Linked DNA regions of Homo sapiens. The protein of the gene in region 4 interacts with the protein of the main gene of each other region in a pairwise test. Each region holds a gene or a part of one and is shown on either strand. Other genes may lie near its edges. The genes, in order: HDHD3, RBP3, TENM4 and PLSCR4.

The links.
Region 1: the proteins of PLSCR4 (region 4) and HDHD3 interact in binary tests that used the Homo sapiens proteins (3 or more experiments, as listed by UniProt).
Region 2: the proteins of PLSCR4 (region 4) and RBP3 interact in binary tests that used the Homo sapiens proteins (3 or more experiments, as listed by UniProt).
Region 3: the proteins of PLSCR4 (region 4) and TENM4 interact in binary tests that used the Homo sapiens proteins (3 or more experiments, as listed by UniProt).

The regions. Positions count from the first base shown.
Region 1 is NC_000009.12:113,373,895-113,381,862, forward strand, and holds the start of HDHD3 (haloacid dehalogenase-like hydrolase domain-containing protein 3), read right to left. Parts: upstream 3,093-7,968; 5' UTR 2,835-3,092; intron 2,707-2,834; exon of another isoform or gene 1,674-2,706; 5' UTR 1,559-1,673; intron 636-1,558; 5' UTR 461-635; coding exon 1-460.
Region 2 is NC_000010.11:47,351,363-47,358,578, reverse strand, and holds the end of RBP3 (retinol-binding protein 3 precursor), read right to left. Parts: coding exon 7,041-7,216; intron 5,255-7,040; coding exon 5,064-5,254; intron 3,204-5,063; coding exon 3,061-3,203; intron 1,478-3,060; coding exon 1,122-1,477; 3' UTR 698-1,121; downstream 1-697.
Region 3 is NC_000011.10:78,695,958-78,703,173, forward strand, and holds part of TENM4 (teneurin-4), read right to left. Parts: intron 6,447-7,216; coding exon 5,569-6,446; intron 1-5,568. UniProt on the Homo sapiens protein: Involved in neural development, regulating the establishment of proper connectivity within the nervous system. Plays a role in the establishment of the anterior-posterior axis during gastrulation.
Region 4 is NC_000003.12:146,192,070-146,199,285, reverse strand, and holds the end of PLSCR4 (phospholipid scramblase 4), read left to right. Parts: intron 1-2,492; coding exon 2,493-2,654; intron 2,655-4,003; coding exon 4,004-4,162; intron 4,163-4,830; coding exon 4,831-4,875; 3' UTR 4,876-6,951; downstream 6,952-7,216. UniProt on the Homo sapiens protein: Catalyzes metal ion-induced ATP-independent rapid bidirectional and non-specific movement of phospholipids (lipid scrambling or lipid flip-flop) between the inner and outer leaflet of the plasma membrane and participates in the redistribution of phospholipids between membrane leaflets.

The DNA.
Region 1 (7,968 bases), on a different chromosome or scaffold from region 4:
AGTGTTCACGCAGGCCAAGGCCCCCCAGGATGCCCTCTAGCCGTCGGTCAAAGTTGGAGATCACTGCCAGTCTCAGACCCCGTGTGCGGCACTCCCTCAGGGTGTCCTCAGCCCCATCCAACACCTGCCAGGTGCAGGGGTGGCTGAAGTCTTTATAAAGCTGTTCAGCGATGGGGGCTACAGCCTGAGCATCCTGGACACCCGCCAGGTGGAAGGTCTGCAGGACCACATCCAGCCACCACTGGCGGGAGGTTAGGCCGTGGCTCAGGCCGTAGTTGGGGAAGCTGTGGCTCTGAGCCCTGTATGCCTGCCTGAAGCCTTGTTCCAGGGCTGAGGGCTCCACCTCCAGCCCATGGGCCCGGGCCTTGGTGGCATAGGCCTCCCCTAAGGGGTGGCGGAGCCTGAGCAGCGTGTCCTTCACATCCCACGTCAGCAGTCGTATCTGCAGCCGGTGTGCCATGGAGGAGGCCAAGTCCACCCCAGTTCTGCCTCAGGTCCCACGGTGGGTCCCAGGGGAAGCTGAGCTGGATAAGACCACCTCTGCGCAACCTAACAATCACCTCTTTCCAGGCCTTGTGGGTCAGATTTGCTGGCTAACATGAAGCACTTGGGAAATGTCTTCACAGCACAAGATCCTAGAATGAAAAATAGCAGGTAAGGTGGAAGCTCAGGCCCTGACATCAGACAGACTGGGTTCAAATTCTGGTGCTGCCAATGGTGTGACCCTAGGAAAGTCACTCTGAATCCACAACAAATTTCTGAGCACCTTTTTGAGCTAGCTGCTAGCATATGGGATAGATTTCCAGCCCTTAGGGCATTTACAGGCACTGAAGAACAGGGATACGGATATTAGGCAAAGAACTATACAAACACTTAAATATAATGAAGTCAATAGATACCGTAAGGATCTAAATCCAGGGACCGCATCTAGTCTGTGTAGTTAGGGAATGTCATAAGCAAGTGAAGTTTCTTTTTATTTATTTTTTTTAATTTTTTTGTGAGACAGGGTCTCTCTCTGTCTCCCAGGCTGGAGTGCATGGCTCATTGCAGCCTCGATCTCCCAGGCTCAGTCAATCCTCCTGCTTTAGCCTCCCTAGTAGCTGGGGCTACAGGCACGTGCCACCATGCCCGGCTAATTTTTGAACTTTTTGTAGAGATGTGGGGTGGTGGGGCGGGGTGGGTCTCACTATGTTGCCCAGGCTGCTCTCCAACCCCTGGACTCAAGTGATCCCCCAGCCTTGGCCACCCAAAGTACTGGGATTACAGGCATGAGCCATCACTCCCAGCCCTGCAAGTCAAGTTTCAATGGAGATCAGAAGAATGAATGTGCAAGAAGCAGAGGTAGGTGAGTGCTCCCGTCAGTGGAAATAGCAAGTGCAAAGGCCCTGAGGCAGGGCAAGTAGACAGAGGCCAGCTGTCTGGCACACAGGACACAATTATTATGATTGCTATTATCATTATTAGGGATGTCAAAGACAGAAGGGGCCTTGCAGAGCATATGAACGATATCTTGGCTGCTGGGCAGAGTAGACTGAGCCAGAAAGGGGCAGGTACTTACCCAAGGTCACAGTGAGTCAGTGGCACAGCCAGGACCAGAACCCAAACTTCCAGACTCTCTGGCCAGTTCTTCCACTGTACCATGAGATATATTTGGATTTTAAAAATTGGTGAACCTGTACAGCACAGGAGAAAAGACAGGACACAGCAGGCTGTCTGTCTCTAGCCCTCTCTGAACCCCAACTTTTCCATCTTTACTGGAGGTAATAACACTGGCCTAGGAGGAGAGCTGATGAGAGAACTGACTCAAGGCACAAGAAACAAGTGACTCAGCCTGCTATCCAGAGGCTGGTGCAGCTTCTTTCCCCAGACAGAGCTGATCCCAGACAAGGCCGTCCCCTTGAAACCTGAGGGGCCAGAGTTCAAAGTACGGCTAAGTTGATACTTAGGGAAGGGCGTCACTGGTAAATCTGGGGGAGCCTTGGAGGAAGTTTGTCCAGGAAATGAATTAAGGAGACTCATCCAAAGATCCTCTCATTTTGCAGGTGGGTAGACAGAGACCCAGTGAGGGGCAGTAATTTACCCCCAAATCACACAGGGAGTCACATTGGCACAGCTAAGACTAGAGCAGAGGGCTCTGGCTCCTGACCCACGGCTTTTTTTTTTTTTTTTTTTTTTTTTTGAGGCGGAGTTTCGTTCTTGTTGCCCAGGCTGAAGTGCAATGGCGCGATCTCGGCTCACTGCAACCTCCGCCTCCCAGGTTCAAGCGATTCTCCTGCCTCAGCCTCCCAAGTAGCTGGGATTACAGGCATGCGCCACCATCCCCGGCTCCTTTTTTTTTTGTATTTTTAGTAGAGACGGGGTTTCTCCATGTTGGCCAGGCTGGTCTCGAACTCCCGACCTCAGCCTCCCAAAGTGTTAGGATTACAGGCGTGAGCCACTATACCCGGCCGGCTTTTTTTCTTTTTTTTTTTTTTTGAGACAGAGTCTCACTCTGTCACCCAGGTGTACAGTGGTGCGATCTCGGCTCACTGCAACTTCCGCCTCCCGGATTCAAGCGATTCTCCTTCCTTAGCCTCCAGAGTAGCTGGGACTACAGGCGCGCGCCACCACACCTGGCTAATTTTTGTATTTTTAGTGGAGACGGGGTTTCAACTATGTTAGCCAGGCTGGTCTCGAACTCCCGAACTCGTGATCCTCCCCCGCCCCACCCCGCCCCCCGGCCTCCCAAAGTGCTGGGATTACGGTAAAGGCGTGAGCCACCGCGCCCGGCAGGGCTTTTTCGATTTCTAAAACCGCGGGTTTGGGGCTCTGCGCTGCAGGCACGAACTGCTCACCTTTTCTCCCCACCTCCAGGGCTCGGGAAAGGCGAAGTCCAGGAGCCCGGACCTGACGCAGAATGTCTATAGCTGCCGTCGGCAGCGTGAGCTGGGGCGGCGGTCCTAGGGGCCTTGGCCGCGGCCGACCCCTTGGGTCCCCTTCTCAGCTGTAGGGCGTCCACGGCTCCGGGCCGGTTCCTGGGCCCAGGACCCACCTGACTCACAAGGAAGCAGATTGAAAACGCAGCCGCAAGGCCCGCGAGCTCGGGCGGAGGTGCGCAAGCGCCGGGCGGTGGGGCGGGGATCGCGCGGGCCGCCCCTCCCTACCATCCCGACCCGCCTCTGTCCCCGCCCCGTCCCCGCCCTTATCCCCCTCACCTTCGCCCTCTCCCGCCCCATCTCCCGTCGCCCTCGCCGTCCCCTCTCCCTCCTTCGTCTCACTGTGCACCTCTCTGCGCCCCTGTCACCCGCCTTCACTGCGCGCCTCCGTTACCCTGCACCATCTACGCCCCTTATTCCCTCCCCGCACCCTCTGAGGTTCCCCAGCCCGCACCCTTCCGCTCCGCAGCCCCCGTTACCAGCACCTTCTCCGCCCTGTCTGCGCACCCCCTGCCCGCCACACCGCCGCTCCTCACCGCTGTCTCCGCTCCCCATCCCCAACCCCGGCTCCTGGCCTCCTTTGGATCGGGAAACCCCCGAGAAGTACCCAGGTTGAGTGGGAGGAGGGGAGTTGGGACCCAGCCTGGCTTGCTTAGTGTTGTGTGAACCTGGGCAAGGCCCAGCCCCTCTCTGGTCTCAGGGTCCCCAGTTGGTATTGGAGGGAATTGCTTTCAGTTGGAAACTTGTTAAATCCAAGATAACTTGGTGAGGGTAGAGTCCGCTGCAGTAACCTGCTTTTTTATTCTTTCTCTTTTTTTTTTTTTGAGACGGAGTCTCCCTCTGTCGCTCAGGCTGGAGTGCAGTGGCGCGATAGCCCACTGCAACCCCCGCCTCCCAGTTTCTTGCGATTCTCCTGCCTCAGACTCCCCAGTAGCTGGGATTACAGGTGTGTGCCACCACACCCAACTAATTTTTGTATTTTTAGTAGAGACAGGGTTTCGCCGTGTTGGCCTGGCTAGTCTTGAACTCCTGACCTCAGGTGATCCGCCCACCTCAGCCTCCCAAAGTGCTGGGATTACAGGCATGAGCCACCGCACCTGGCCTCTTTTTGTTTTTAAGAACCCTGTGGTACCATCCTGGCTAACACGGTGAAACCCTGTCTCTGCTAAAAATACAAAAAATTAGCCGGGCATGGTGGCAGGTGCCTGTAGTCCCAGCTACTCGGGAGGCTGAGGCAGGAGAATGGCATGAACCCGGGAGGCGGAGCTTACAGTGAGCCAAGATTCTGCCACTGCACAATATTTGCCTGGGCAAAGAGCGAGACTGTGTCCCCAAAAAAAAAAAAAAAAAAAAAGATCCCTGTGGTAAGAGCCTGGAATCCTAACCACTAGACCACCAGGGAGCTTTTTTATTCTTTTGAAGAATAAAAAAAGAGTTTTATCTTTGTTTGCAAAAGTAATGTATGTTGGCTGGGCGCGGTGGCTCACGCCTGTAATGCCAGCACTTTGGGAGGCTGAGGTGGGTGGATCACCTGAGGTCAGGAGTTCAAGACTAGCCTGGCCAACACGGTGAAACCCCGTCTCTACTAAAAATACAAAATTAGGCGAGGTGGTTCATGCCTGTATTCCCAGCTACTTGGGAGGCTGAGGAAGGAGAATCGCTTGAACCGGGGAGGTGGAGGTTGCAGTGAGCCAAGATCAGGCTACTGTATTCCAGCCTGGGTAACAAGAGCAAAACTCCATCTCAAAAAAATAAAAAAATAAAAAAATAATAAATAAATAAGGTATGCATGTAATGCATGTTAGTCTCAAAAAACTAAAAAATACAAACATATGAGAGTTGGCCATGCAGAGGGGAAGGATCTGAGTGATGGTTAAGGGACCCCCTGATGCAAAGGCCTCCAGGCAAGAAAGTTTTTTTTCCGAACCAAAGAGACACTGAGGAACTATAGGAATGTTGCTAGCCAGGGGGTTTGGGCCAAAGAGGCTGGGGAGGTACCGGAGGGGAAGCTTTGAGATACTTCTGTGCCTGTGCTCTGTTCCTCTTTAGTCTCATCACCTTGCACTATGACCTTAGGCAAGACAGGTCATAAGACAGCCCCCACCACCCAGGCCCCTTTGAGAGGGTCTTGCCGCATACCCTGGAGGAAGGAACACTGCACAGAGAGGCCAAGAAGAATCTACACAGATGGGTCTTGGTGGGTTTCTCTATTCAGTCTATTAGCGTTTTGTGCAATCCTGTTTCTACATGTGAAGGGGTGGCCTGCCCCTCCACACCTGTGGGTATTTCTCATCAGGTGGGACGAGAGACTGAGAAAAGAAATAAGACACCGAGACAAAGTATGGAGAAAGAACAGTGGGCCCAGGAGACCGGCGCTCAGCATACGGAGGACCTGCTCTGGCACTGGTCTCTGAGTTCCCTCAGTATTTATTGATTACTATTTTCACTATCTCAGCAAGAAGAATGCGATAGGAGAGCGGGCTGATAGTGAGGAGAAGGTCAGCAAGAAAACATGTGAGCAAAGGAATCTGAGTCACAAATAAGTTCAAGGGAAGGTACTATGCCTGGATGTGCACACAGGCCAGATTTATGCTTCTCTCCACCCAAACATCTCAGTGGAGAAAAGAATAACAAAGCAGCATTGCTGCCAACATGTCTCGCCTCCCGCCACGGCGCGGTTTTTCTCCTGTCTCAGAATTGAACAAATGTATAATCGGGTTTTATACCGAGACGTTCAGTTTCAGGGGCAGGCAGGAGACAGAGGCCTTCCTCTTATCTCAACTTCAAGAGGCCTTCCTCTTTTACTAATCCTCCTCAGCACAGACCCCTCGCGGGTGTCGGGCTGGGGGACGGTCAGGTCTTTCCCATCCCACGAGGCCATATCTCAGGCTGTCACATGGGGAGAAACCTTGGACAATACCAGGCTTTCCAGGGCAGAGGTCCCTGCGGCTTTCCGCAGTGTATTGTGCCCCTGGTTTATCGAGAATGGAGAATGGCGATGACTTTTACCAAGCATACTGCCTGTAAACATTTTGTTAACAAGGCACATCCTGCACAGCCCTAGATCCCTTAAACCTTGATTCCATACAACACATGTTTCTGTGAGCTCAAGGTTGGGGCAAAGTTACAGATTAACAGCATCTCAGGGCAAAGCAATTGTTCAGGGTACAGGTCAAAATGGAGTTTCTTATGTCTCCCTTTTCTACATGGACACAATAACAGTCTGATCTCTCTTTTCCCTACATACACGGCCATGTACACTTCGTTGAACCTAAGCATAAAAATGGACAGTTTCCTCTGTATCTGTGGCTCTTCATTCTGAAGGCTCCCATGTCACAAAAAAACTATGATCAAATAAATGTATATGCTTTTTCTCCTATTAAAAAAAATACAGACATATTCAGGGTTAGGCATAGTGGCTCATGCCTGAAATCCTAGCACTTTGGAAGGCTAAGGTGGAAGGATCCCTTGAGCTCAGGGGTATGAGACCAGCCTAGGAAACAAAGTGAGACCCCATCTTGTTAAAAAATAATAACAGGCTGGGTGTGGTGGCTCACGTCTGTAATTGCAGCACTTTAGGAGGCCGAGACCAGTGGATTACTTGAGGTCAGGAGTTTGAGACCAGCCTGACCAACATGGTGAAACCCCATCTCTACTAAAAATACAAAAATTAGTGGGGCATGGTGGCAGGTGCCTGTAATCCCAGCTACTCGGGAGGCTGAGGCACAAGAATTGTTTGAACCTGGGAGGCAGAGGTTGTAGTGAGCTGACATCACAGCATTGCACTCCAGCCTGGGTGACAGAGCAAGACTCTGTCTCAAAAAATAATAATAATAATGCAAAATACAAACGTGTACAAAATAAAAAGCCAGCCCCCCACCAACACCCAACCTCATTCATTGACCACCTAACATCTGTGGGCTCTGTGTCCCCTGTCCTTCTCTGAGGATTCAGTGGGAAACAAGGTGGTTCCTGCCTGCATGGGGCATGGGAGGGGCAGACAACCATTGAGTAGATAAATAAACAAAGTGATTTCAGAGAGAGAAGTGGAAGCGGTAAAAACAATCATTTTATGAACAGTGACAGGGTATCTCTTTGGATGAGGTGGTCAAGGAAGGAACAAAGATCTGAATGGTGAGAAGGAGGTTGTCAGGTTAAGATCAAGGAAAGTACTCCAGGTGAGGAACCGGAAAGAAGGGTGTGGGGCCTCAGCCTGCTTACTGAACAAGGGCAGTAGCCTTGGGGCAGGGAGAGAAGGGCTTCCCCACCCCATCTCACTCCCCAGGGATTGCTGAGGTGACAGTTTTGGTTATGCTATGACACAGTTTTCTAGCAGCACACAAACATGTATCTAATTTTCTTTCTTTCCTCTCTTTCTTTCTTTCTCTTCCTCCTTCCCTCCTTTCTTTCTTTTTTTTTCATTCTTTCTCTCTGTCTCCCTCCCTCTTTTCTCTCTCTCCTTTCTTTCTCTCCCTCCCTCCCTCTTCTCTCTCTCTCTTTCTCTCTCTCTCTCCTTCCTTCCTTTCTCCCTCCCTCCTCCCTTCCCTTCCCTTTCTTTCTTTCCTTTCTTCTTCCCTCCCTCCCTTCCTCCCTTCCTTCCTCCCTCCCTCCCTCCCTCTCTCTCTCCCTCCCTCTCTCTCTGTCTCTTTCTCTCTTTCTTCCATTTTTGAGACGGAGTTTCACTCTTGTTGCCCAGGCTGGAGTGCAATGGTGCCATCTCAGCTCACTGCAACCTCCACCTCCTGGGTTCCAGCGATTCTTCTGCCTCAGCCTCCCGAGTAGCTGGGATTACAGGTGCCTGCCACCACGCCCAGATAATTTGTGTATTTTAGTAGAGACAGGATTTCATCATGTTGGCCAGGCTGGTCTTGAACTCCTGACCTCAGGTGATCCACCTGCCTCAGCCTCCCGAAGTGCTGGGATTACAGGCATGAGCCACCGAGCCTGGCCCTTTTTTTTTTTTTTTTTTTTTGTGAGACAGAGTCTTACTCTGTCACCCAGGCTGGAGTGCAGTGATGCGATCTGGGGTCACTGCAACCTCTGCCTTCCAGGT
Region 2 (7,216 bases), on a different chromosome or scaffold from region 4:
CAGGATCACATGCCCATGCCCTACTGCCAGAAGGGCTGGAAAAGTGGGGCTTCCAGAGTGTTCAGCTTTGTGGTGGAGAAATTATGACAGCTAACATTGGCTGGACACTAGATTAACTCACTTCATTCTCACAACTCCAAGTGTAGTATTATTTCTCCCATTGAACAGGTGAACAAACTGAGGCCCAAAGAAGTGAAACAAATTGCCCAGAACCACTCAGCTGGGGAAGTGGCTGGGCTGGTTTCCCACCCAGGCAAGGCTGACATCACTGTTTCCTACTGATTCCTATGGGCAGTGATTCTCTGATCATCCAAAGGTGCTGCAAATGCTGGGTGGCCCAAAGGAGGACACAGGTCCACCATGCTGGATGTGTGACCTTGGGTGAGCTGCGGAGTTTGTCTGTGTCTCAGCTGGCTCCTGGGTAGAAGATGAGAGTGGCCAGCTATGCAGCCGGCATGAGGCTCAGAAGAGACACAGCCAGTGTATGTACATCACCAGCAGAAGGGCCGCACCAGCCCTTTCCCTATTTAAGATCCACAAGATCTTTGCCACCTGCTGACCCCACAGCATCTTGCACCACATCTTAAATAAAATCAGCTGTCCATAGAGGTCAGCAGGGCAGATCCAGAAGATCTAAATAATGTGAATGGAGAACTCATGAAAAGAAGAGATTTAACAACCACTAGTGATCACTAAATTGTGGTTAATGGCTCGGGTATATAATTTATTTTATCTTCTTTATTTTGTATTTTGGAATAATGATAGCTGCATCTGAAAATAATGATATATGCACATTAATGAGTATTTAAGAAAAAGAGCAAAGTATGAAGAAGGAAGGTAAAAATACCACCCCAAGTTCTACCACTTAGAAGGAACCTTTGTTAAAATTTAGGTGGTTATTGGAAAGCCATATATATATACATATATATACATACACATATATATGTGTATATACATGTGTGTGTGTGTATATATACACACCTCCAGCTGTAACCTAACCAGAGCTCAGCAGGCCCCTTTGCTGCTCCTGGGAACCTCAGGCCGGGCCACCTGCAGGAGTGCCCTTGGTGTGTGTCCCAGAGGTTCTGTCTGCCCTGGGGCTCTGCCTATGGGGCCCTTCCCTACAGGTGGTCCTGCAGGCCTGGGCTCCGCTTCACCCTCAGCTGGTTGTGCTGGAGCATCTCCTTGGCCCTGGCGAGAGCCTCTTCTGCAGGGACAACCACATGGGGTGTCACCCCCACCCCTTCCCAGGAGCTGCCATCCGAGGCCCCCACAGAACGGGCCGTGGGGATAGTGAGGTAGAGGTTGGTGTCATCCACGTGGTAGGTCTGTGGTGGCTGGCAGCCCCCACTGGTCACCTCCCCAATGACCAGGGCCCGGCCCAGCCTCTTCATGATATAGGTGAACTCCTCCGCGGTGCCGGCCGTCACACTGCTGGTCAGAATGACCATGCTCTTCTTGGAGCCATAGCGTTCACCTGGAAGACATAAGGCCCTTCAGGATGGGGGTCATGTCAGGACCCTGGAGCACCTGTCTTCTCTATCCTGCCTGGGCCTGCAGTGATGGAGGAGGCCCGGGGGTTTAGGTCTGTGTCCTTGTGTCCACTTGTGAGCCACTTGACTTCTCTGAGCCTTGATTTCTGCATCCGTAAAATGGGGACAAGAATGCATGCCCAATCACGAGGATTTCAGTGCTTGACAACTCCCAACGAGGCCTTTTTATGCCAAGTGATAGGAAAGGCTTGACTCTCCTGAGAAAGGAGCATCCTCTCTCTTCATGAATAATGAGAACACCTAAACCGACCTGACTTCCTTTTCACTTTGGACTCAGAAAAGCCCAATTTGTGATGTATAAGAACAACTCTCCAGGACAGCACTGTCCAACAGGAATGCAACGTGAGCCAGAATGCTGGCCATAGATGTCATTTTAGGTTCCCTAGTAGCCATGTTAAGCAAGCAAAAAGAAACCCATGGTGTTAATTTTAATCATGTTTTGTTTAAGCCAATGTATCCAAAATACATTCTTTTCAAAATGTAATCAAATAAAATTATTAATGAGGTTTTCTTTTCATAATGTCTTCAAAATCTGGTATGCACATTACACTTCCAGCACATCACACTTCCAGCACATCTCAACTTGGGAGAGCCACATTTCAAATGCTTGGTGGCCGCAGGTGGCTTGTGGCTCCCATATTGGACCTTGCGGTTTTGGGGCCTCATTATCTGCAGAATTGAGTCTATCTTTAACTTCCAGTCTTGAACATCTATTTGAATTTAGAATTCACCTGGTTCTGATTTGCATTTACACTTGTAATATTATTGAACGTATGTCCTAGGAGCTACAGCAAAATGCCTGTGTATTACAGAAGCATGGACATGAAAATGGTGGGGTGTTTCTCTGGTCACAGGCACACCCCCATCGGTCTCTCCAGTCCTTTCTTGTTGGGTAGGAGCACAAGTTCCTTGGTCTTACACACTGGGCAGGGAAGATAGATGGAGGCCATCCACCCTGGAATGGGGCTTTGAGAGTTATGGTTCTGTAAAGCTCAGGGCCTGCCTTTGCTCCTATAGCCACTGCTCTGGGCCCAGGGCGGGGAACAGAAGCCCGATCAGCATCATGACCTTTCCAGGCAAGTTTGTGGCACTGTGGCTTGAGAGCTCAAGTACTGTGAGCACTGGCAATGCCCACTGGGGTTGGTGAGGGGCGGGGAGAATCCTTCAAATTCTGCATTTGTCCTGCAGGCTGGTGATTATGGTGCTAAGCCTGGGGGAAATTTTGGTATTAGACAAACTAATATTCACATTTTGGGTTTCACTTATTAGCTGCATGACCCTAGAAAAGATATTTGACCTAGTCAACACCCCCTTTTTTTTCCTCTAGAAAACGGGCATAGTGATACATGCTTTTCAGGGATTCGAGATCATGCACATCTAGTGCCTGGACTAGGACAGGGCCTTACATTCTGGTTACTATGACTTTTACCTACACCCAAGCTGTCTTTCCCTGGTTTCCCAGAAGCTTCTAGAATGACAGCAGAAAGGAGAAAGCTTCTCCACGTACCTACAACCTGGGCGTGTGTCCAGAGTTCACTGACAGAGTCATCAGGCCGGCTGTAGATCTTGTCCAGCAGAACTGGAGGGCCTTCATCAAAGAAGTAGGAGCACAAGATGGGAATGGAGGATGTGGGGCCACCGATGTTGAACCTGAAGGATGGGAAGCAGAGCCTGTTCAGGGGCTGAGCTCACAGTGAGGCCCTGTGTGCCCCTCGGGGAGGCCAGGATCTTTGTCCCATGGAGGGTTCTAATTCTTGGCAGCCTCAGTCTAGTGCCTCTTCCTCCTTTAGAATTCCATGGGTTGGCATTTTCCAGAGTATTTCCAAGAGTACTAGTCTCTTTAGAACAAGAAACTTAGTGATCAAATATGTTATCCTTTCCTTCTGCTATGTAATTAATACATGTTAATATATTAAAGGCCCTGACAAGTCCTGCAGTCAGAAACTTGTTGATAAATTTCCCCCATTTATTGACCATGGACTGCTCCCCTGCACCCATATCTTCCTATGAGTGGAACACATTTTGGGAAACATTGTTTTTCCCGTTGCATTCTGTGACAATCTTATGACACCTACCAGCTGTCTTAGTTCAGGTGTCTTAACAGGGCACTTAGTGTATTGAAATATTCAGGCTTGTGGAGCTGCATTGGGAGCAGGGGAGCCTGTATTTCTCCCAGGCCATTTAGATTTGTCCCACTGTGTGACCTCGTTGGGCCCCTGTCTCCCCACTGGGGCTAGTGATGTGTTAAGGAGCCTCGTCCAACTGATGGCCTGGGATGGCCTGGCTGGGTTCGGGGCCTGTGATGTCAGTGTCTGAACCTCCAAACAAACCTCAGGGGTGGGAGGGTCTTTAAGCAAAGTGCACTTGCAGGCTGGGGCCATCTCCTCTTTAAAAAGTGTAAATGGCATATTCAGAAGAAAGAGACTTAGCATGAGTGTCATTTGGGTGCTCAACAGAACTTCTAAAGAATAAAATGATCAGAGAGACCCCAGGAGCCTCAAGCTCAGGCTGTGAACACACACAGAACTGGAGCCAGGGCTAATGTTTTATCTCCCAGGGAGGAGAAGCAGTGGGTGCAGGACCGAGAGCCACCTAGTGACCACTAAGAACCATGTGAGTGAGCGCTGAGGGCTAGAGAACTGGAGCTGGGTGAATGCTTCTGGTCTGCCACCCCCTGCCACTTCTTTCAGACAACACGGGAGCATGGAAGGGTCCCGTCTGAGGAAGGCAACCTGCCCAGGGAGGGTGCTGGGGCATGTCCACCAATGGACCCCAGAGTCATGGGATGCCAGGTCTGGCCACTGCCTGAGGGTACTCATCCACCTCCTACCCCTGGTCCATGAGGTAAACTCATGACATATGAGGCACATTTTTACAGAAACAGAGGGGAGGTGGCTAGCTGAAGACATCCTTCTGACAATCATTTGGTGATGCAAAGAATTCTTTTGTTAACAATAGTGATTAACTTCTAAATTTTCCCTGTGTGATTTCCAAATTCTGCCTGTACGATTCATATGACCAGGGTTGTCATGTGTTGATTTTGTATGATGTGAGGCACACTCCCAGGTGGGGGGCCTGGCTGTCTCACACACCACTGACCATCAGAATCACCTGGGATGCCTGTCAAATAGAGATTATCGGGCCTGTCCCCTGGAGCTTCTGAGTCAGTAAGAGGGGAGTGGGGCCCAGGAATCAGTGTTTTTAACATCTCCTTCCTCTCCTCCCCACTGAATCCTATGACCAGGCAAATCTGGGGTAATTCTCAATCTGGAATGCACATTGGAATCACTGGAGAAGCTTGCAAAAACTACCAGTGCTGGGCCCCACCTGCAATGACAGCAGATCTGCTGGGCTAGCTGGCCGAAGCCCTGATAGGCAGGAGGCCTGGCCCCCCTCAGGTCCTCTGCTGTGTCACAGGGTTCCTTTTCTTCCCTGCTGTGGCCCATAGCTTTGACTGTCCCCTGGCAGCCCTGCGTCCTGGCTAGGAAGCACTGACCCCTGGCCACTGACCTCATGTCGATGATCATGGCATCCGTGTGCATGATCTTCTTCCAGATGTGCTCCACCAGCAGCCTGGAGACCTGGGTGAGCAGCTCACCGTCCCCAAACATGTCAAACCTCAAGTAGCCAATGTTGTCCTCAAGCACGTTAGTGTGGAAGGAAAACTTGATCAGCTCTTCAAATACTTCAGGGGAAGGGATCTGTAAGAGTTGGAGGTCCTACTCAGTGTCAGGAGGAGCAGCCAGTTTTAGAGCCCAGGAAAGCAGGCGCCATGGGAAATATTAAGGGCATGGGACAGGAACTAACATTTCTGAAGGAATTAGTAGACACCAGGGACTTTCCCAGTGGCATGTCTGGATGTGACATGCCACTGGGACATGTGTGATCTATGGGCAGCCTCCTTGCAGAGGATGCTCCTGTCTGCCACCCACATGCCCTGGTGTCCTGAGCTAGAAGGCCCAGGAATGGACTCCCCTCTGACCTCTCCAACCTTACCAGATACTTCCTATGTCTCTAAGCTGCTCCACTGGGGCAGGATTGGAAGATGTTAGTTACCTTTACCAGGCACCTGGCCCGGTACTAAGCACTTTGTAGAGCTTATCATCATCCTCACAGCCACCTGTACAGGAGATAACACGATCCCCATCTTTTCCATGGAAAAACTGAAGCACAGAGAGATTAAGTAACTAGTCTCAGGTCACACAGTCAGTAAGTGGTGGAGCCAGAATCTGAATCCACATCTGACTCCAAATCGTGAACCTTGGCTATACTGGAAAGGAAGGAGATGTTGATTTGGAAACTGGGGATTCTGCAAGCCTAGCACAGGCTACTCGCACGTGGATGCACCTCCTCCTCCCTCTCTAAGGCTGCTGGAGGGAGGCAGGTCTTGGTGAGATTGACAGGCAAGGAGACTTCATTGACAGAGACACTGCCCTCCAGGCCCTGCCCTGCCCTCAGTCACAGCTCTCTGGCCTCAGGCCACTCCCCTCTGCTCCTCTCCGGGCCTCAGTTGCGGAAAATGGGGATAACAATTCTGTAGTAGATGCTTTTGGCACTCTCAGCCCCCTCTGCTTTCAGCTGCACCCGACCCCACTGACAGGCTCTCCTATAGCACAGCCCTGCCTTTCCACCCGTAGCTCAGGCCTTCTCCAAGAAGAGGGAGCCTGCCCCACCCTGAGGCATGTCTCAGGGCAACTCTTGGCCAATGCGGGACAGGAACCACTGGGCCCTGCCTGCAGAGGGCTATGCCTGGGAGCATCCCTGCACTCGTCAGGGTCCTGGCTTCAGCAGAACAGCTTTGAGGCACCTGCCTGTCAGCTTCCCAACCCACTCTCCCTGCTCCCTCCTTCATGCCTGCTTCAGTAACCGCCTCCCAGACAAAGCGCCTGCACCCAAGCCCTGGTCTCAGACCCTCCTTGCAAGGGATCCCATGGCAAATGCTGCCCTGCCCAATTGTGACGATGCAGCAGACCACAGGTAGAACAGTGTGGAGGTGTGAGTGCTGCCTAGGTGGAGCTCTCGGCCAGCGTGGGGCACTTGGTGAAGTCCATTGGCCACCTCTGACAGGTGTTGGCCTCTTCCCTAGCACTGACAATGAGAAGCCCTGCCAACACTCACCTTCCACCCAGCCAAGGCTGAAATGCCTTCTATCCCAGGAGCTTCCGAACTGGCTTCCTGTGAGTATTGGTTGGCTTTCAAACTGGCTTCCTGTGAGGTGGGTGCAAAAGTAATTGCGGGTTTTGCCATTGAAAGTACTTTTGCACCAACCTAATATGAATGTTCTACAGAGGTGTTCAGCAACCCCAGGGTCACAGAGAGTGGATGGAACAGGTTGAGAAAGAGGAAAGGACTTGACCGGTCAAAACTTAAACGTGAGAACAAATCTAAAAGCCATTGTCACGCACTGTGCACAGAGCCCTGCATGTGCGGACAATGGGTCAACTCACTCCCGGGACTGGGTTCAGCCAGGTCTCTCTTGGGTCTCACCTGCATGGGCACAATTCCAGGAATGCGGTCCTTGGCATTCTCAGGGATATGGGCTGCCTTCAGGTGTGGGTCTCCGGAGAGCATCTGCAGGTCAGCCCCCAGGATCTCGGCTAGGGCCACTTCTGAGGTCACCCTGGAGTAGCGGCTCTGCAGACCGCTCAGTTTGGTGGCCATCT
Region 3 (7,216 bases), on a different chromosome or scaffold from region 4:
TTTCCTCAAATATTTCTTCTGCCCTATTTTTTCCCTCTTCTCCTGGAATTCCAATTACATGTATATCAGACTATTGGATGTTGTCCCACAGATCTTGAATGCCATGTTCTGCATTTTCCACTCTTTTTTTTCCTCTCTGTATTTTAGTTTGGGTAATTTCTATTAACCATCTTCTTTCCTCAGCTGTGTCATGCTGTGTCCTCCAGAGAGAGCAGCCCATCAAAGGCATTTCTCATCCTTATAACCGTGGTTTTCATTTCTAACAATTCCATTTGATTCTTTCTTATCGTTTCTGTCTCTCTGCTAAAATTATCCATCTGATCTTGCACATTGTTCGCCTTTTCCATTAGAGCCTTTAAAATAATTATAGTTATTTTAAATTCTCTGACAGATAGTTTCAACACCTGTGTCATACCTGAACGTGATTCTGATGATTTCTTTGCCTCTCGGGAATGTGTTGCCTTTTCTTGCCCTTTTGTACGTTCAGTTGAAAGCGTGACATCTTGTGTAGCATGGTAGAGCCTGAGTGAGTGATAGGTTTATGCCTGGAAATGGGTGTGAGTTTCCTTGTGCTAGGACTTTTGTGAGGGGGTTTGGGTTAACCTAGGATTTGAAGTCTGTTTATGGTTAGCCTCTAGGTATCATAGGTTTTAAATTCCCTTAGCAATTCCCTGTGTTTAGGATGTGAAACTGGTTTGCCAGAGGGTTTTTTTCCCTCAAGGTCCACAGTTCAGCCCTTGGGTCCTCCCTTTGTGCTGACTCAGAGAGGGTCTCTTTCCATGTTCCTGCCGTTCTCTAACTCCCTCCCAGCAGTCTTCTGCCCTTCACTGATGCTTTTAGCCTTCCAGCTAACTATGGTGGTGGCAAAGCCTTTGCTAGGGTTCTGACTCTCAGGTATGTGGGATTTTTTTTTTTCCATTTCTTTTCTTCCCTCATTCAGCTGAAAGGATTTTCCCCAGTGCCTAGGCAGGACAGTGTTCGCTGCCCTTCTCTTCACAGATGAAGGGTGTTGTTCCTGATGGAAGATGAGGTGAGCAGGGTCTGGGTAGAGTGGTCAGGGGTGTATGCTCCTCCCTCAGCAGCTGCTGTGACCTTCCCCCAGGTCGACCACAAAGGACACTTTCTTCTTAAATCTTTCCTCACTCTTTTCTGTGGGAAAACTCCTGGTGGGATTTGTAGAGAAAAAAGTCCCTAAGAAGACATGGACCTGCCCAATTGCTACAGCCTCCAAGGGCTTCAGACTCTCTTGCCAGTACACACTTAGCCTTTGTAAATTCACCAGCCATCCCAGCTGAACTCTTTCTCCCCGGAGCTGGTGCATCTGCCCACAAGCAGCAAGATGTGGTGCAGGGCCCACATCTTGTCTCTTTCTGCAAGACTCTGTCTCTCCTTGGATTTGACCTCAGAGAAGGAGTTCAAGGAAACGCACGAATTTACCTTTTGTCTGGCTTATTTTCATGATAAGGTTGGGCATGATGCACTTTCCAGCTTTCCTATCCCCAAGTAAAAACCAGAGGCCAAATCTCTTCATTTGACCCATTTCAGTTGAGTTCTATGTCCCGTTGGGAGCACTGGCAGTGCTGGTGCTCAGACGTGAATCTAGCATTCTTCTCACTACAGCATATCTTTTCTTCCTGTCTCTATTTCCCTTCCATTCTGAATTTACGTGTCATTATAAAATATTGACTATCTGTCAGCCGACTAGTTGGCAAACCCTAAGCTTGACGCAAAGACAAATTTGTAAGGGTCTCACAGTAGTTAAGGTGAGCATAATTATAATAGGAGTTGTCACAGGGCACTGTGGGAGGCCAGAGCCCCTTCCCCTATGAAATTCAGGGAAGGGGGTTGCTCATATCCATCCAGCAAGTCAATTCTGGAACCTGCCTCATACTTATGAGGCCATTTTCTCAGCCACCAAATGCCATCTGACCAGGAGCTAAGTCTGAGAGTAACGATGCCACACATGGGAGGTGGGGACTGCATTTCAGACTCCTTTGAGCTTCCTACCAGCAGACCTGTGGGCTGAGGGGAGGAAAGTAACCTTGATTCTCCAAAACTGTGAACTCTGTAAATCAAGGTGCTCTGAAGTGTGTGATGTTTATGTTAGGTGTACTATTTAATCTTTTAAGAGAATTGGCAAAGCTGACTTAAAACTTGTTTCAGGCCGGGTGCGGTGGCTCATGCCTGTAATCCCAGCACTTTGGGAGGCCTAGGTGGGCGGATCACTTGAGGTCAGGAGTTTGAGACCAGCCTGGCCAATATAGTGAAACCCCATCTTTACTAAAAATACAAAAATTAGCCGGGCGTCGTGGCAGATGCCTGTAATCCCAGCTATTCAGGAGGCTGAGGCAGGAGAACTGTGGAGGTTGCAGTGAGCCGAGATCGCACCATTGCACTCCAGCCTGGGCAACAGAGCGAGACTCCATTTCAAAAACCAAACCGAACCAAACCAACCAACCAACCAACCAAACAAACAAACAAATAAACAAACAGCTTGTTTCAATAATAGCCTATGTCACAGGCAAGCCTGGGCAATTTTTTTTTTTAGAAAAATAGAACATTTCGGTTATAATCTACTAAACTGCCTCATGAAGCTAAAGGTAGAAAATTCACTAGATTAATGGTTCATTGGCAAAATCTGTCCAAATCCTTGTTAAGAAACACCATAATGAAATATCTGTACACCTCTAATTCTAGACAGCCTCATAGTTTGCAAAGTTTTTTTACTTTCAGTATTTATTTAGTTTTTTAGTCCTCATAATAGCCCAGAAATGGGGTAGGGCAGGGGATTATTTCTGTCTGGTTGAGACTTGGGTCTGGAGGCCAGCTAGCCTGTCCCTGAGTCACATGGCTCGCAGCCAGTGAAAATAGGTGTCTGGCACCCTTGCTTCATTCTCAGCCTGAGCTGGACCATTTTGCCTTGGGTGGCTCTGCGTGTTATTTTCCAGCCGACTTTGGATATTCTCAGGGATCTGACTTCTTTCTTAGTTCATTTCTTGATCTCTCATATTTGATTCTGCTCTTCTCACCTGACCTCTGATTCCTACCTACCTCAATTAAAACTTTTGTCTACTCTTTTGATTAGTTTACTTGCAGTTGCTCCTGGGAAATACCTTTCACACCCAAACAACACTTCTGCAATTACTGGTACTGCCACTAATATTGCTTGCATTAACAACAACAACAACAACAACAACAACTGCAGCAGCTATCATTTGAGTACTTATAATCAATCAGACACTGAGCTTTCCATATTTTATCTCACTGAAATTTTGAACCTCATACTATTCCTATGAAATACATAACTATTGTCATCCCTATCGTACAGATAAGTCACAAAGAATGTAGGTGACCCTAGCCAGTGCAGTTGAAAGAACAGGGACTTGTGTTCTGGTTCTGCTACATACTCACTGTGTGGTTTCAGGCTTGTTATCTAATCTCTCTGTACTTCATATGTAAAAAATGTGGATGATAATTCCTGCCATCTGAGGTTGCTGTGAAGATTAAATGGGAAAGAGCCTGGCACATAGTAGGATCTCAGAAAACAAAAACAAAAACAAAAACAAACTAGTTTCCCTTTCTATTTTAGGACTTTTATCTACCACTTCTGGTTTGTGTTAACAAGGATAACCACTCTTGGGTACCGCTATGAAGTGCAGTCTTTGGAATTCCAGACGCCATTTTATAAAAAAGCAATTGTAAAAACTTTTCCTTCTTCACTAAACATCAACTATAGCTGTATATTTCATCAAGGAAAGAAAGGGAGGGATCTTTCCTGGTAGAAGTGTAGGAAACCGTTTTAGATTTCAGGGGTGGTGGAGCGTAATGGATGCAGTGATGTGTGAGCATTCGGTTTGGGATCTGAGGGAGTGACTTTGGGAACTAATTGAGTGCACAGACTTGCTCTGACAAAGAAACCCCTGTATTGGCTAAATAATGTATAAGAGATTTCCATCGGGCAATGGGCAAAATGGAATTATTTAGCGTATTTCCATTCCAATGAGTTAATCAAGATAATTGCTGTTTTCCTGGATCTTTGTCTTTTCTTTGTAATTAACAAGGTCCTTGTTTGGAGAAAGGAATTTAGCCAGTGAACTTTGTACAAATCGCTGTGACATGTCTGTTCAAATTATATTTAAAAATCAACTACAGATCCTTTTCCTTTGGATTCTCCTAGGACTGTTAGAAACTGATGCTTGATCAAGCTTGAGAAAAACTTTAAAGAGTCAGGTTCATTTGGAATTAACAAACTCAGTGTGGCACTGGTGCGGGGGTAGGATGCAGGGAGGGCAGCAGGGCAGCACTGAGAAAGCCCAAGCTCTGGCATCAGACTTGGACTGCGATCCCTGTTCTGCCATGTCTCACTATCAAACAGTGGGCAAAGGAGCCTTCAGAGCCTCAGTTTCTATGTCTGTAAAATGGATAATATCACCCATCCTCAGAGCTGTTGTGCAGATTAAATGCAGTGGTGTAGCTCCTAGCCCACAGCTAATACTCAACAAGGCTAGTTCCTTCCCCACCTCTCACATGCTTATCTAATGGTGACATATTCAGCAATCTCAGTCGTGTGAACCATGGCTAAGACCTCAAAAAGCAGCTTAAAAAAATCTAAGTAGAAAGAGCGATGTTAGTCCATTCATTAAATATCTCTTAGAGGAACACCCCAGATATATATATTTAATTGTTGCTAGGATTATAATAAGCTGAACTTCTGGTTCTCTGATCACACCTCTTAAGAAGTCCTCCACTGGATGAAGAATAAAGAAATGAGCTACTTGAGGTGGGCACTAGGACTGAAATAAATAGTGACACCACAGCACAACCCTGAGGGAGGAGGCAGAGAAACCTACCCTTTAGATACAGGGCCTAATAAAGTAATGGTTTAAAATCACTTCAGGCAGGGGCAAAGGGCTCTATATCCTCATTTCCCTACTTCCTGAAAGCTCTCTTCATATTACAGCGTAATATGCAATTGTTGTTCCTTATTAATGACCCTGAATCAGAAAAAGAAAGGTTTCATTATGTCTGTGTAGTGTGTTTGAGAAGGGAGGTATGCAATACACTTCATAAGAAAAGTCCCATGCAAAATGGTTAAAATGAAAAGGGTTTTTTTTTGGAATTTGAAGACAAGAGCTTCAATTATGTGGAAAATTCATCCACATGTGCCTGTTCCTTCTCCCCTTGCCACATTTGTGGACAGTGGTCATATGAAGATGCTAGCACTTCATCAGGTAAGTACTTTTCATCTACACCATCTCCCTGTGGTATGCTGGGCAGGTATCCACTGTATCCATTCTACAGATGTGGAAACTGAGGCCAATAGGGATTAAGTCCATGGTAGAGTGGGAACTGATGCCCAGCTCCTCTGACTCCAAAGCTTATGCCTTCTCCACTAGACCATTTCCTTCCTAGGAGAAATCATGTGGAATATGAACATGTAGAATGTATTATAAGTAATAGTTTTTATCCCAAATCCTGAATTAAAATAAAATACTCGATCAATTTACCTCCAATCCTACAATGAATTAATGAAACAAAATCATCAAATGGCCTTGTTTTAGTACTTACTCATAAAATGTTGTCCATCCGTTTTCATTGCTTTTGGTTGCCAGAAGGCCGGAATTGCCATGGTATGTCATCATGGCCAACTCGTGTCCTTGTGTGGTCACACTCTTGAGTGCACTGTTGGTGCCCATGGTCACCCAGTACACCTGGCCATCTGGGACCACCAGCCAGAGGGGCATCCCAGTAGAGTCTCGGCGGACATTTACCATGTTGCCATTGTTGTCTGTGATGAGTGTGATGTCGCCGTCCCCAGTGTAGGTGAAGTTGTACAGGTAGTCTCCTGTGGGCAGGCTTTGGGTGTACAGGTGCTTGCCGGTGGTATCAAACAGATAGAGCTCCTGGTCAATTGGTGAAGACAGCTCATACATGTTCTGGGTGTTGAGGAAAGGCTTGTTCTTCCGGATAAACCGAATTCGGATGTTCCCAAGGTCGGCCACGTAGAGCTCCCCATCAGCACACACAGCCAAGGAAGATGGGGTATTTAACTTTGCATCCTTGGCATAACCATCGTCTCCAGAAAAACAATCACAGTTGGCATCATTTTTACAGTCACAGCCACTGGGGGCCCCAGCAACGAGTGAGATCTCTCCACTAGTGGTGACCTGCCTGATGCGGTTGATCTTTTTCTCATCAGTCTCAGCAATATACAGGACCCCATTGTGTGAAACAGCCAAAGCGGTGGCTGACTCCAGGGTTGCGTGGATGGCCACCTTGCTTAGCAGGAAGTGGTCAATGCCAGGGACCTGGCAGTGCATGGGCCTCCCGGCGACAATGCGCACCTGGTGGTTTTCAGAGATTTGCAGGACCACATTGTTGTCGAGGACATAAAGTGAGTTGTCCATTGGGTTGATGGCTAAGTCTGTGGGCCACTCCAGGTGAACCTGACAATGAAGACACCGATACTCAAATGACTGGCAAGATGCCCACCACTAATCCATCCCATAGCCCATGTAGCCCATAACAGTGTCCAAAGTGGCTTCATATACAGTCTTGCTTGATCCTCATGCAGCCTATCATCAACAATGAAGCGTCAGCCCCCTGATCACCGGGAAACCATGAAAGAGCTGCCACTGAGACATGTGATGGTCTCATTAGACTGACAAAACATGAAGAAGGAGTTAACAACAACAAAATAGTAGGCAAAAGGGTAGACTTTGGAGTCAAATAGGCCTGAGTTCAGAGCATAGTCCACTACTTATGACTGTGGGCAAGTTACTTTGCCTCTCTGAGCTTCAATAGTCACATATGGGAAATGGGAATGACAAGAGCACAGAGTCCCTGACCCACCATAACCCACCAAATAATGGCAGCTGATGTTCTAAGATGGGAGGGAAAGGCAGATGGAGTCTGGAGGCTGAAGTAGGAGTTGTTCAGAGGCTTAAGAAAGATTCTTCATACATGGTTGATATGATACATGTATGATTTCTCAATTCTTTGAGTTCATGGATTAACAGCTGGCTAGCTGCTAGAGACATAAAGACAAGCTAACCATGGCCTCTGTCTGTCATAGTTCTAGACCAGTGATTCTCAAATCTGGCCTCACATTCAAATTATCTGTGGCGATTTTAGAAAATAATGGTGGGAAAACCCCACCCTTGGTGGGTGAAATCAGATCCCTGGGCTTGGAGCTTGGGCATCGGCATTATTTTGA
Region 4 (7,216 bases):
CTTGCATTTCTAAGCAAGTTATTTTCTGTAGGGAAAAGAGAAGCGGTTTTGGAGAGAAACCAAACAGAGTCTGAATTCTAGATATGTCACCTACTTAAATCTGTAAAATTTAATTAACCTGTTTGAGCCTTAGTGTTCTTATACATAAACTGGGTAGTATAATACATCATAGGATTACTGAAATACTTAAATGATCTGTTAAATAACATCCTTTACTAAATATTAATTTTTTACAACCGTCTCCAGGCCTTATTTACCTGTAAAATGGAAATATTAATAGTACCTATCGGATAGGATGATCATTTTAGGGATTAAGTCAATTCTTCTGCACAGTTCCTAGCAAATAGTATAGTACTCAATGAATATTTTCTCTTTTCAGAAATCTTACTCCTTTGTTATTATTGTCTTTGTGATAACAGCCTTATATGTGAAGTGAATACCTATTATCCTTGATCCTTTTGGATATAGTAGGCATTTATCTTCATATTTATGAGTTAGATTTTTTTTTAATCAAAGCCTATAGATACAGCCTTCTGAAATTATAGGAAGCCAGAATAAAGGAAAGCAAATCAAAATTACAGCTGGGCAGGATGGTTTACACCTGTAATTCCAACACTTTGAGAGGCTGAGGTGGGAGGATCACTTGAGGCCAGGAGTTTGAGATCAGCCTGGGCAACATGGTAAAACCCCATCTCTACAAAAATAAAAAATAAAAAAATTAGCCAGGCCTGGTGATGTGTGTCTGTGGTCCCAGCTACTTGGGTGACTAAGGTAGGAGGATCACTTGAGCCCAGGATATCGAGGCTGCAGTGACCTGTGATTACACCACTTCACTCCAGCCTGGGTGACAGAGAAAGACCCTTACTCCTAAAAAAAATTACAAGCCTAGTCCAATTTATGACACTTTTGTCTCATAACTTTACCTAGGTTTTTCTTCAGATTTCTCCAGTTTTACTTGTATTAATTTGTGTGTGTGTGTATACATTTAGTTTGTGCAGTTTTATCATTTGTGTAGATTCCTGTTTCCATCAGCACAATACAAATCCCAAACAGTTCCATCATCACCAAAGTCCTCTTTTATTACCATATCCACATTCCTCCCTCCTCTTTGTCCCTAGCCCTTCAGAACCACTAATCTGTTCTCTATGTTTATAATCTTGTCATTTCGAGAGTGTTATTTTAGCAGAATCATATAGTATGTAACTTTTCAGGATTGGTCTTTTTCATCCACAGTAATTAACTGGAGATTCGTACAAGCTGTTACCACTAGTTCATTCCCTTTTATGGCTGAGTAGTATACCATGGTATGAATTTTTAAGGAATTTATTTTTGTACATTTTTATTTTTATCTCATAGGTTTAAACTTATATGAGAGCTCTATGATACTCTCAAATTTATATATTTGTATATAGGTGTGAATTTATACATATGAACAATAATACCTTAATTTAATAATTTATGAAGCTGTGCAGTCCTGTTCCATGTCCTGGGTAATCCTTTCCCCAAATTCTTATGAAAGTACATGTAACACCAGAGAAATAGTCAATAAAATTTTCACTTTGGGCTTTTACCAAATAATTTAATCTTTATGACTCATTATTATTAAACAGGAAGATCTTAATTATTCACAAAATAATATTGTTGAAGATAAATAGCTAAAAACAGGGTAGTGGACAATATTTTAAAACTTTTAAAAAATGGCTTTATAAACCCATGTACACATTTTGTTGTTTTCACAATATATAATTTTCAAAATGCCTCTTTTTTGTTTTCTGTTATAATTTTCATGTCTGAGATTTGATTTTACCCAATTTCAAATCTAAAAAGTCAGCTTAACTGTTTAATAGACTGAGTCAGAAGAAATGAGACTCCTAGGAAGGAGACAGAGGACCGTTTTACAGCACAGCAAGCAGCATAAGTGTGTAGGTTCCCCTCATCTCCAAGTTCTGAGGTTGACTTGGAGAAGCCCATTGCTTCCTCATTGTAAGCCTTTTATTTTTTACTTATCCTGAGAAAATTGTTCTTTCTGATGGAGAAGCAGTGTAGTGTAGTATCAACAGTAAGCCTTGAAACCAAGCCAACTTATCTCTGTGCCACTTCCTAGTTCCATGTTTTAGAAAGTGTTTAACACTTGCAAGCCTCAGTTTCCTCATCTGTAAAATGGAGATTAAAATACTTATATTTTTCAGAGTTATAAATATCAGCTGTTTATGCAGCTTGCCAACACTGAACTTGGACAACTGGCCATTATGTAACAAGCCCTAATTAAGCCTGCTGTCTATCCCAGAGGCAAACATGACCTCATCCGTTAAAGCTTTTCACTGAAATCCAACCTGAAGAATGGCCTGGGTGAGATGGAAGGCTGTCACTCCCAACAATAATTTCCCTAGTCTTTGAATGAGTGAGGACACATCTAGATTGTGTATGTGCGTATGTGTAAGTGTATGTGTATGCATGTAGCATCCTAACTTCTGTCACTGTTTTGTTTGCAGCTGGAGGTGCAGTGTCCTCCTGGTGTCACCATTGGCTTTGTTGCGGAACATTGGAACCTGTGCAGGGCGGTGTACAGCATCCAAAATGAGAAGAAAGAAAATGTGATGAGAGTTCGTGGGCCATGCTCAACCTATGGCTGTGGTTCAGATTCTGTTTTTGAGGTGAAACTATGTAAAAATAGTGTTTCTGATATTTTTCCTACTCATATTAACAGACCATGGAAAGATCTGGTTGTAGACATTTTTTTTTAATGTGAATGAATAACATAGTGTTAGGAAAGAGTTAATTAACCAGTTGACATCAAAAGATTTTAAAGTTATTGTGAGTAGATTGAGGTTTTCCAAAATGAAAGCTTTTTTTATGACTTCAGTACTTGATAAAAATAAAAAGAAATCATTTAATACATTAAATATTCTGAGAGTAAATAGCTTGACCTAATTCATCTATTCTATTGTTGGCTATATGTAATTAACCATTTTTTTCCCTAGATTTCTAGGCTGGGAATATAGGCTCTAAGTAATGCAAGTGCCCAACATGTCACAGAACATACCAAGTACTCCTTAGGCTGTGGAAATACTTATTTGCAGGATACAAGTCTGTCAGCATCCTCAAGAAATCGGATAACACTAACAATATGGATAAAACTTATAATAGTTTTAACATTTTTTTCAATAAAAAGAAAAATTATTTTGTTTTGCCTTTATCTCACTGGCTACAAAATGCTGGTTCATTACCCTACGAGTCTGACACAGGAAATTCCTAGAAATATTTCCTAGGCTTCTTAAAGAATATTTTTTGAATGCCTTGCAATTAGGCAAGATTCATCATCTTCAAAACTGCTTGCTCATATGTTTCCTATGATACTCAAGAAACTTTCCTTAGTTCTTATTTTCTATTACTGTATCGTTAAGCATTGCTTATTTATTAAAAGAGCAATGTAGATAAGCCAGATTGCTAGGGCAGGGTGTGTGTGATCATTCCCATTGCCAAGTGACATTAGAAGTTAGTATTTGGATATTTTCCCTGTGACAAGTGCCAGGTTTCCCCTTTTAGAAACTGAAGCTCGTTGGTATCTGGCCGTATATTAAGAAGACAAGGTGAATTTCACTCACAAAAACTTAAGTGATGTGAAGTGAACAGTACTTGTTTCCCGGTTTTTGCTCATAGGTTTCCCTAGTTTGGAAGTGACTCTCTCCCAATTCCCACCCTTTACTATGTTGAGAAGAATTTCATAATCAGTTCAAATCATACCTCTTCTTAAAAGGTCCCTTAATAACTCATTTGAAGATGAAGAAAGAGCAGCAGTCTGAGACTTTTAAGAATACCCTAGCTCAGTTATTAACCAGTTGCAAGGCAGTTAACCCTTTTTGGCCATTATTTTCTCATTTCAAATTATATAATTACATAGTCTTTTTCTGCATTGTATTTATGTTATCTGAACATAAGCAGAACATTAAAACATGCTTCAATGCGTTTCAATCATCATAAAGGCACATTCTTGTCATTCCAGGTCAAATCCCTTGATGGCATATCCAACATCGGCAGTATTATCCGGAAGTGGAATGGTTTGTTATCAGCAATGGCAGATGCTGACCATTTTGACATTCACTTCCCACTAGACCTGGATGTGAAGATGAAAGCCATGATTTTTGGAGCTTGCTTCCTCATTGTAAGCCTTCTATTTTTGAGTTATCCTGAGAGAGTTGTTCTTTCTGATGGAGAAGCAGTATAGTGTAGTATAAAGAATAAGCCTTGAAACCAATCCAACTTATCTCTGTGCCACTTACTAGTTACATGGTTTAGAAAGTGTTTACACTTGAAAGCCTCAGTTTCCTCATCTGTAAAATGGAGATTAAAATACTTATAATTTTCAGGGTTATGAATGTTAGCTATCATGGTAAAATGACCAGGGGAGTACTTAGATAACATTAGGTATCCATTGGGTATAATTATCATCATTGCATGTTATTTGTCATTGTCACTACTTAAAAATGCCTAGCCTATGATTTCTTAGTGAAATAACTCTAAAGTGGATGTCCCATTCCTCCTTCCTTTCTGCCTGTCACTGTACTCTTTGGGGTTGTCCAATCCTGAGATTATGAAGTTTTTCCTCTTTTTAATGATGAGATTCAGTTAATTGGCACTTCAAATGGAAAACTAACAGTTCCAAATTTGTAACTGCTGCTCTTCACAGTAGGTGCTCTTCATAAATATTTCCCTAAATTTATGTATTTTAACTGGAATGGGGGAATCCCCTAATAAATTACAAAGGATAATACCGCATGCATTATACCTAATTATCTATATATCTACATATAATTCTTTTTCCAATTTCAGGACTTCATGTATTTTGAAAGATCTCCACCACAACGTTCAAGATAGAGAGACACAGCAAGCCATCAACTATGGTTAATTTTGAAAAATGGAAAAGTTGGATTGGGCTTACAGTCAGCACTCAGTTATTTGCAAGTGTATTTCTTTGCTTTGTAGAGTATTTTTATTGGGTGTTAACTTTGACAGCTGAGAGTGGGCTTGCAAGAACACAATCTAAAAGTGTGTTTCAATTGAGTATCTCTCTAGTAGAATAGGAGTTCATCCTGAAAAGCTGTGACTCATTAACCCAGTAAACATATACAAAGTAAGCTTAAAACACTATAAACATGAGATAAGGGAAAATGAATCCAGAGTTCTCATATTAATAGGTAGTGAAACAATAAGGCTTTTTAGAGCAGACTTTGTTGGCATAAAATAACCTGGCTTCTATCCCTAACCCTTTCCTACCTTTCCTCTCCGTCAACATGTCCTCATACTGAAGACAAACTTGTTTCAATGATAGTCTTCATTTTTAAAAACAAAAAGGCAGGCAGACAGAAATAATGATGTTTTCTTGCACTAAGAAGGTACTACTTGTACACATATATCAAAACCTCATTCTGCAAAGTTTTTGAAGGTTTCAATGGGAAATTTGATTTTATTACAAAATAAAACATTTTTTAATGTTAAAGTTTATATATTCCATGCTTGTTTTCTCATTCACTGGCATGGATGATCAGGAGCTGCCTATATATGAAGGCAGAATCAGACTATCAGGAAAGGAGCTGGCCAGGGCCACAGCCAGTCAAGATCTCTGAGCAACTTAGAGACATTGGTGTCATTATATGAAGCTTGCATTTAATACATTTATACATAATACATTTGTACATTTAATTCATAACGTCTCTTGGTCACAGATGCCTTATATATAAAATAAGTTGCCAGATCTCTAAGATTGCCTAGTACACCTTTGTATCTCATTTGATGTGATACCCAGAAGAGATCATTGTTTTTTGTTTTTGTTTTTGTTTTTTTCAAGAAGATCCTTCGTGATCACCATGCTGTTCTCATGGTAAGAACTGGAGTTATGTTTTTAAATTTGGAAATATGACATTTTATGTAGCACTTTATAAAAAGTGAAAGCGACAAATTCCACCGCTGCTTAATACTGCTTTGCTTCTTTTTATTGACATGATAGATAAATATGTATCTACACAGAGTAATAATAATAAAACACAGTAAACATTCTATTTCTCTATGGTCTACAGCATGCCAGTAAATAATATGTAGGACCAATAATAAATTATCAATTACACATTTTTGTGTTAACTAATTAAAAGCATAGTGTATAAGTGAGTACACTCTAATTAACTTGCTTCTGTTGCACTTTAGTTTTCTACCTGCATATGGACTGCATTTTTTTTTTTTAACACAGTCAGTATGTAGAATGGGATGTATTCTTCTGCTGCTGCTTATTAAATAAAGAAAGCCTGAGTGTTCTTAGATGGGGTTATTCTGAGATGAGGGTCTTAGCCTACAGTTCTTTTTGAAATGAAAGGTGCTTTGTTTTTTAATTATATTCATCTTTTCAGGGTAAATTTGTTTTTCTGAGTTTCTCGTAATGCTCATTTTTACATGCTGCTACTAGCTTTTTTTTTTAAAAAAAGTAAAAGTTGCTGCTTTCTAAAATATTAATTGCCTTATATTTGAAAGTGCCATTGCAATCGTAAGTAGACTATGTATTTCCTATAATGATGTCTGATATTTAAATAGGAAATCAGACAAACAATATTCAGAAAGTTTAAGCATATAAACTTTTTATTTTTAACTTGCCTAAATCCCTGTATTCCAAAACCTGCTGCATCATAATAAATATATCTATATATATTTAGCATAAGACGTGATATTTTTAATTTCTTTTTTAAAAAATTATATTTGTCTCTTAGAGTTAAAATTTTCTTTATATAATATTGTCATATGTCATAGTTTTAATACAATTCACATGATTTCTATGTTTCTTAATGATATTTTGTTGTGTAAAATTGATCGGATTGATTAAAAAACAAATTCTCTGGAATTTGTGCGTTCATGCTTTTTCGTATTCTTTATGGCTTTTAAATAAATATACAATGGTTAATAGTAAAACACTGTTTTATTTTTTGACTTTGAATCTTCAAATACTTTTTTCACAGGGATTTTGAAGTAATTTTTATTGATTATTAGGTTTATTCAAGGCCCTTGCTTTCTAATATAAATTTTAAATTATTTTTAATTTATATATTTAATATATATTTAATTTATATATTTTTAATTATATATATTTATATATAATATATATAATTTATATATAATATATATTATATATATTTTTATAATATATAAAAATATAATTTATATATTTTTAATTTAA